2 linked regions of the Homo sapiens genome follow. The protein of the gene in region 2 purifies or fractionates together with the protein of the main gene of each other region. This does not show direct contact. Each region holds a gene or a part of one and is shown on either strand. Other genes may lie near its edges.

Region 1 (3,501 bases), on a different chromosome or scaffold from region 2:
TAACATCAAAATTGGACAGTTTTCGGGCCAGGGGAACCTTAGAGGTCACCTAGTTTAAACAGCCTGTGTTTCATATAGGAAAACCTGAGCTCCAGAAGGGGAAGTGATCTCTGGGAAGTCTTGTAGCGATGGACACTGAGTTGGAGCAGGAGCTGCTGGGACCCCTCCCTGTCCCACGCCATTAGACCTGGGGACTGGCAGCCTCTGGCTAATTTGCCAGGCTCTAATTCTCTCCAACTGCACCCAGCCAGCACTGGTTTTGTGACAAGTTCCTGATTCCTTCTAGATATTTTGCATTATTGAAAGTGTTCCATAAAGTATATTACATTTGCTCCTTTTAAAGGTATATACAAAACGACCTCATATCAAAAACTGGGAGAACAGACGAAAAAGAAATCATGCCATAATCTTCCAGCTGTAATACAATCACAGGCAGCATTTTGGTTTCTTTTCGGTCACTTATGTTTCCTCTCCTAGCTCCTTTCTTACATTGCCTTGAACCTGGTTATTTGGGCACCTCGGGAACCTCCTCCCCTGCCAACACTGGCTAGCACTGAAGCCCAAGCACTGCTCTGTTGCTTCTTCCTGAGGGCTCCGTGTCTGAGCACCTTTCTGCTGGGTTGAAGTTGCCTCCTCATTGATTCTTTCCCTGTCATGGAGTCCCAGGGTATTCTGGGTGCTCCAGCAAGGGGGCGCTGTCTTGGAGAAAGTGAGTGGCTCAGATTGGTTTCCCAGGGGTGGAGCCTGAGGCAGGATTCTGCTGCCCTAGTTTACAGAGAAAGTGCTCTGTTGGGCAGCTGGATAGGGAAGGGAGGCTGCCTGCAGGTTGTCCTGCCTTCAGGCGAAGAGACCAAGCTTTGAGCTTTTGTACCCACTGTCAGGCAGCCATTGGTTCCCCTGGGGAAGGGGATGTTGTGCGACCTCCCGGGCCTCTGGCGGAGACACTCTGTTTTGAATTACGACCTGCAGCTCCCCTGGCTGAGGTGGGGAGGGGATGTGGACCTGCCTGGTGAACAACATCCAGACACAGCATGCACAGTGACTGCCATACCAAGCTGTTCACAGACTTCTCCTTTCCTGCCCCTGACAGTCTCTCCTGGGCACCTTGGAGCCATCTAACACGTGTGCCAGGCCTGGTCCTGCACCAGGGTACACCCTCTCTTATGTGGTCTGGGGCACTTCTCAGTCACAGGTGTAAGGATTCTCAAACAGGTAGATGGGAGTCCTTTCAGGGCCAGGGAGGGCACTGGTCCCTATGCCGTGGAGCTTGGCCTTGGGGCATGCTGTACCCCAGGCAGTTCAGATGACCCCTGGGGAGTCCCTCTTTGCTGAGGGGTGACTGTGGGAGGCCAGAGGCCAGCACTACCCTTGCGTGTGGATGTCCTGGGTCCCTCTCCCTGCCCCAGCAGGGGAAGCTGCAGCAAATCCCCTCACAGGCCTTCGTGGGTGAAGTTGGGCACTAAGGGTGAGGGATGCACGCTGAGCCAAGTCAGAGTGTCATCTGGCCTAGCTGGCTTCTGCTGGGCTCAGGGACCCTGAGCCTCTGGGACGGGCACGTCAGCAGGTCACATGCTGGAAACTTGCACAGGTGAGGCAACAGGGCCTGTAAGAAGTTGCCCCATAGTCAAAATAAAAAATTCACAAAGTGGAAACAACCCAAAAGAGGGAGTTGAATTCGACGGGAGGCCCCCAGTTTGCTCTTCTGTACCTCCTTCACTTGGCCTTCCCTGAGCCCACACCTGTACTTCTGCTCTTTTCGTTGAGAGTGTTTTCCCCTGTACCACTCAATTTGTGTGCATGCTGCATCCCCACACACCTAGGCCAAATCTCTGTCTCCTTCCTTATGCCTGGCCTTAGAGTCACAGGCTTTGGTCGATTGCGTTATCATCTGGGCCTATTTGATGGCATTTCTGGCAGTTAGAAAGTGGGGTGGAGAAACCAGAGCTCCCGCAGGGCCTGGGAGAGGGCACACGGTGAAGACCCGTCCTGCCTGAGCACCAGGGGACAAGCACTGATGGACGACACATATTTCACCGAGGAGGGCTGGAGAGTCACTGAATAAGAGGTGACAAATGTCTGTGACTCTTTTTATTTTTTGAGATGGAGTCTCGCTGTGTTGCCAGGCTGGAGTGCAGTGGCACGATCTCGGCACACTGCAACCTCCACCTCCCAGGTTCAAGCTATTCTCCTGCCTCAGCCTCTCAAGTAGCTGGGACTACAGGCACATACCCAGCTAATTTTTGTATTTTTAGTAGAGACAGGGTTTCACCATGTTGGCCAGGATGGTCTAGATCTCTTGACCTTGTGATCTACCCGCCTCAGCCTCCCAAAGTGCTGGGATTACAGGCATGAGCCACCACACCCACCTGTCTGTGACTCTTACTATGAGCCAGGCACTACTTGAGGTCCTGGGATGTGACAGTGAAGCAGCAGGAGATGCCCTGCTCTCAGGGACTCACAGTTGATTGCCGGAGTTAAACGGTTAATTAAGATGAGATCTGTGGATGCATGTGAGGCAGGAGTAAGTCCTGAAGGAAACAGAACTGCAAGGCATGGAATGTGTTTTGGGGAGGGCGCTCAGCATAAGCCTCCTGGGAGTCGAACTAGGAGTGGAGTGGGGTTGAGTTGGAGGGGACAGCAAGTGCAAAGGGCCGGAGGAGAGATAGAGCTTGTCAGAAGTGCGCAAAGGCAGCACGTTTGGCCAGGGCAGCAGGGCTGGGAGGGAGGGTGGAGAGGTTGGCAGGGCGGGGCCATGTGGGACCTTGTGGGCTGTGGTTAGGAGACAGGAAGGAGAATGCCAGGTCAGATGTGGGCAGGGTTAGACTGGGCCTGGTTTTTGGGCCTCGTTCTCCCTGGCCCCTGAGGGCTGTCTGTAGCTGTGGCCCCTGCAGGGCTGGACCGGGCCTTGCTCAACTCCCTTCACCAGGCCCGCAGCAGGGAAGTGCCAGGAAGTGTCTGTGGACCTGGGTTGACTTGGGCCTTGGGTGATTTTCTTCCTGCTTCCTTTGTGGGTCCCCCACTCTGCCTGAGCTCTGTCAGCCCCACGAGGTGGCTTCCGCTCTGTAGACACTGCCTTTGGGCACCGTTAGGGGCTGGACCCCGCGGGTGGATGGGAGGTGGCGTGTGTCATCCACCACCCTCACCCATCCTTGTTCTTTGTGCAACTCTCACTTCTCTTTTCTTTTCACTGTTGCTTTCTGGCCTGACCCAGGTCCCTGAGTTCCCCTATGGCCTGCCTGCCTCCTGTTCCTGTGTTGTGAAGAGTGGGGAGCACCCCCTCAAAAGCAGTGCCTGCCAGACGCCAGCACATTCTGTGTGCCAGTGGGGCCTCATGCGACAGTGGGAATGAGAAAAATTCACTCTTTCAAAACTCACTGTCAGTCCTTTAATTTTCCTCAAAATAAAAGTTTTCTTCTGGTGTCTGTATGTGGTTTACATATTTTTTTATTTTAAATTGTGGTAAAATATATATAACATATAATCGACCTCCTTAACCATTTT
Region 2 (3,501 bases):
ATAACTATCATTTTAACATACTCCTTGGGTAAATAAAATGCATTTCAACTAGCCTCCCACCCTCCATTAATTCAAAGTGTATTGTAATTATCACATGTATTTGGACTTCAACCATTTTATAAATACTTGAAGCTACTGAGATCAATTTAACTATACTAACAGAGCTGGTAAACAACTACAAGAGTTCATCAATAAGCATAACCCTCTTAACAGTCACTTTACTTAAGCTGTCTATAGGTATGCTATGTAAGACAAACAATATCAAATTTCACCTATAACTGTAGGACATACATGAGTGCTATTTTTATATTATTTTAAGTTACTTTTTTTTCAGTTAAATGTACAGGACCAGCTGGGACTCAAAACTTTAAAAACAGCAAACTGGACCAAAAAAATAGAACAACAGAGAAGAAAATAATTAGCAAGGGAATGTCTTAACATATAGACTAGATCTCTTCTACAGCACATAAACTTTTCTAGACTTACAAAAAAAAAAAACCCTGATATGCCCATTATTATCTATTATCTCTAAAAACAATCCAACTTCTCACTTGGCAATCAATAACTATATTTAATTTCCTTCATGCAAATTCTCCCCCATCATGAAATAAAACATTTAAAATATTCATGACACCGAGCACAGACTTCATAGGTTACTTAGATTTAAAATGATTATGCACACATTATCATAATCCAATTCATAATGAATGTACAAGAACTTTGACACGTACTGCTTTACTGGCTCCGACTGAACACAGCATAGAAGAGTCAGGAGAGAATGCACAGCTGTACACCCAATTCTGATGCCCCCTCAATACTTTCATCATGTTTCCTGAACAAAAAGAAATAATCTGTATTAACCCTAGAATCCACTTCAAATGAGCAGTATTTCAAAACAGCAGTAAAGCAAAGGATCACAAACATTTATAGCTGAAAGCAATTTATCTATAACAAGGGTTACCGATATACACCAGCTGCTTAGGTTTTAAATTTTACTGGAACACAATCCTGTCCATGTGTTTATGTTGTGCTCTACAGCAGACAGCATGGTTCACAAGCCTCAAATATTCAACATCTAGCCCTTCAAGAAAAAGTCTGGGGCCTGGCGCGGTGGCTCTTGTCTGTAATTCCAGCACTTTGAGAGGCTGAGGCAGGTGGACTGCTTGAGGCCAGGAATTTGAGACAATCCTGGCCAACAGGGTGAAACCCATCTCTACTAAAAAACATTAAAAAATCAGCCGGGCATGGTGGCGCATGCCGGTAATCCTAGCTACTTGGGAGGCTGAGGCACAAGAATTACTTGAACCTGGGAGGCAGAGGCTGCAGTGAGCGGAGATCACGCCGCTGCACTCCAGCCTGGGCGAAAGAGCGAGACTCCATCTCAAAAAAAAAAAAAAAAAAAAAAAAAAAAGACAGAATTCTTTTAGTCCAATCCCCTTATTTTAAAAGTTAAGCAACTGGAACACAACAGCAAGGTTAAGAAACTTGACCATCTTCAAAATGCCTTTTCATTCTTCATTTTTGAGAACCTACAACTCACTCCAAAGTCCTTGTGTATTATACCCACAGCACACAACTATGCTTAAGTATACTGAACTCTTAGTTTTACAAATACTTACTGAGTGCCTACGCATGCCAGGCCCTATGCCGGCACTGAGGATATAACTGGAAATAAGGCAAGGACCCCACTATCTTGGAGCTTATATTTTACTAAGACTATGTTCTTAAAACATGTACATTGCTGAAATTAGTTTGAGATAAGCAAGCATCATTCGATATGCAAAATAAAAAAATTATTAAAATATTTCAACTGTTGGCATCCCTTTGCACCTCAACAGCTGAGCAGATAAAACACAGAGAAGGTCCTTCATGATTTGTTAATGTTAGCATAGAACTTTATTAAGGAATGGTTACTATCTATCAGCTGGAACATCTCCAGATCTGAGGGTTTTGTTTCCTACTAATTCAATTTAAGCTTTATTACCCCTAGGCAAGCCTGTTAACCTCCAGCTTGAGGCTGTTAGAGCACCAACAGACCTTACATTTAAGGTTTTAGTTAAACATATAAACTCTTTCATTAGGGACTGAGAAAGGGAAGAGATGCTCATCTCAAATGAGGTAGCATCTCCAAAACTTTGTAAGGCTTTAGAGAAAGGTGAGTACTTGACACCAACGTATCTTTCTATTGTATTGGACAGTAAATCTTTCACTTTTTATAAAAGCACTTCTTAACCTAGCCAATTTAACGTTTACTAATATTCACATGTTATAAGTTCTGGTATGTAGGTCATGTTTCAATTTAAATTTTATTAGATACTAAGTTACTTCAAGACCTACCTAAATTTTCACTCAGCCAATACAGTAAGTTAATAACCCTCCCTAAGAGGACATAAACACAGACTGGTTCCTGTAAAATCCCAAACCTGATCCATATTTGGTCCTCAGATAGTTGATACAGATTTATGTGGTTAGTTTCTGAATAATATCAGATCATTTACTTCGAATAACTGTTGGCTCCTATTCTGGGTCACATTTATGTTTTTCTTTGATCTATTCAGGAAAGGAACCTAAGTGTTAAGGCAGAGAAAAGGAACTTTGATCACATGTCATTTTTAAAGTCAAATGCCCCACATGTTCCCAATACCTCTCCATAGTAGTATCAAGAAACAAATCCTAGTTCATAGCTTGGAAAAAAGACATACCATCATCTTTCAGGTCCCATACTCTGAGAGTTTTGTCTCTTGAAGCTGACACCAGGATCAAGCTTCCATCTGGAGCAAAAGTTAAATCTCTGACCACTTCAGTATGATCTACCAAGTTAAGGAGGAGTTTTCCTAAATATGATAGAAAAGGGAAAAAAAAGACAGTATTAATATATTTTTGTTTTGTTCTTATTTTTCTTGAGACAGGGTCTCACTCTGTCACTCAGGCTGGAGTGCAATGGCGTAATCTTGGCTCACTACAGCCTCGACCTCCTGGGTTCAAGCAATCCCCCTACCTCAGCCTCCGAAATAGTTGGAACTACAGTTACAAGTCACCACGGCTGGCCTTTTTTTTTTTTTTTTTTTTTTTTTTTTTGGAGAGATGGAGTCTCACTATGTTGCCCAGGCTGGTCTAAAACTCCTGGGCTCAAGTGATCCCCCAGCTTTGGCCTCCCAAAGTGCTGGAATTACAGGCATGAACTTTAAAATATAAAATCAAATTATTTCTTTGCTTGTTATTTCCCTGGCCTAGGAATGTTAAGCTCCTCAAAAGATACAAGTTATCCCACAACTTTAGTTTTCAAACATGATCCCAGTGAAAAAAAATGTATTTAACTAATAATGTAAGAGCTTTGTTTTCTAAGACAATCTATGTGTTCATCTTGTTTTTTTCAAGAACCCAAATTTTGACTCATTATCACCTATGTTAGTATCACTTGTTATGTTCTAATGTACATGTTCTTTTAATGCTTCTTTAAAAATCCTTTATGTTTTTGAGTACATATTATATGCCAGAAAG

What was found. Proteins that work in one complex are often made in the same cells at the same time.
Region 1: the proteins of WSB1 (region 2) and NUP210 purify together in Homo sapiens (affinity purification with mass spectrometry, with the first as the bait; one large-scale study listed by BioGRID). This does not show direct contact.

The regions. Positions count from the first base shown.
Region 1 is NC_000003.12:13,413,823-13,417,323, reverse strand, and holds part of NUP210 (nuclear pore membrane glycoprotein 210 precursor), read left to right. Parts: intron 1-3,501. UniProt on the Homo sapiens protein: Nucleoporin essential for nuclear pore assembly and fusion, nuclear pore spacing, as well as structural integrity.
Region 2 is NC_000017.11:27,304,113-27,307,613, reverse strand, and holds part of WSB1 (WD repeat and SOCS box-containing protein 1), read right to left. Parts: intron 2,835-3,501; coding exon 2,703-2,834; intron 833-2,702; coding exon 732-832; intron 1-731. UniProt on the Homo sapiens protein: Probable substrate-recognition component of a SCF-like ECS (Elongin-Cullin-SOCS-box protein) E3 ubiquitin ligase complex which mediates the ubiquitination and subsequent proteasomal degradation of target proteins.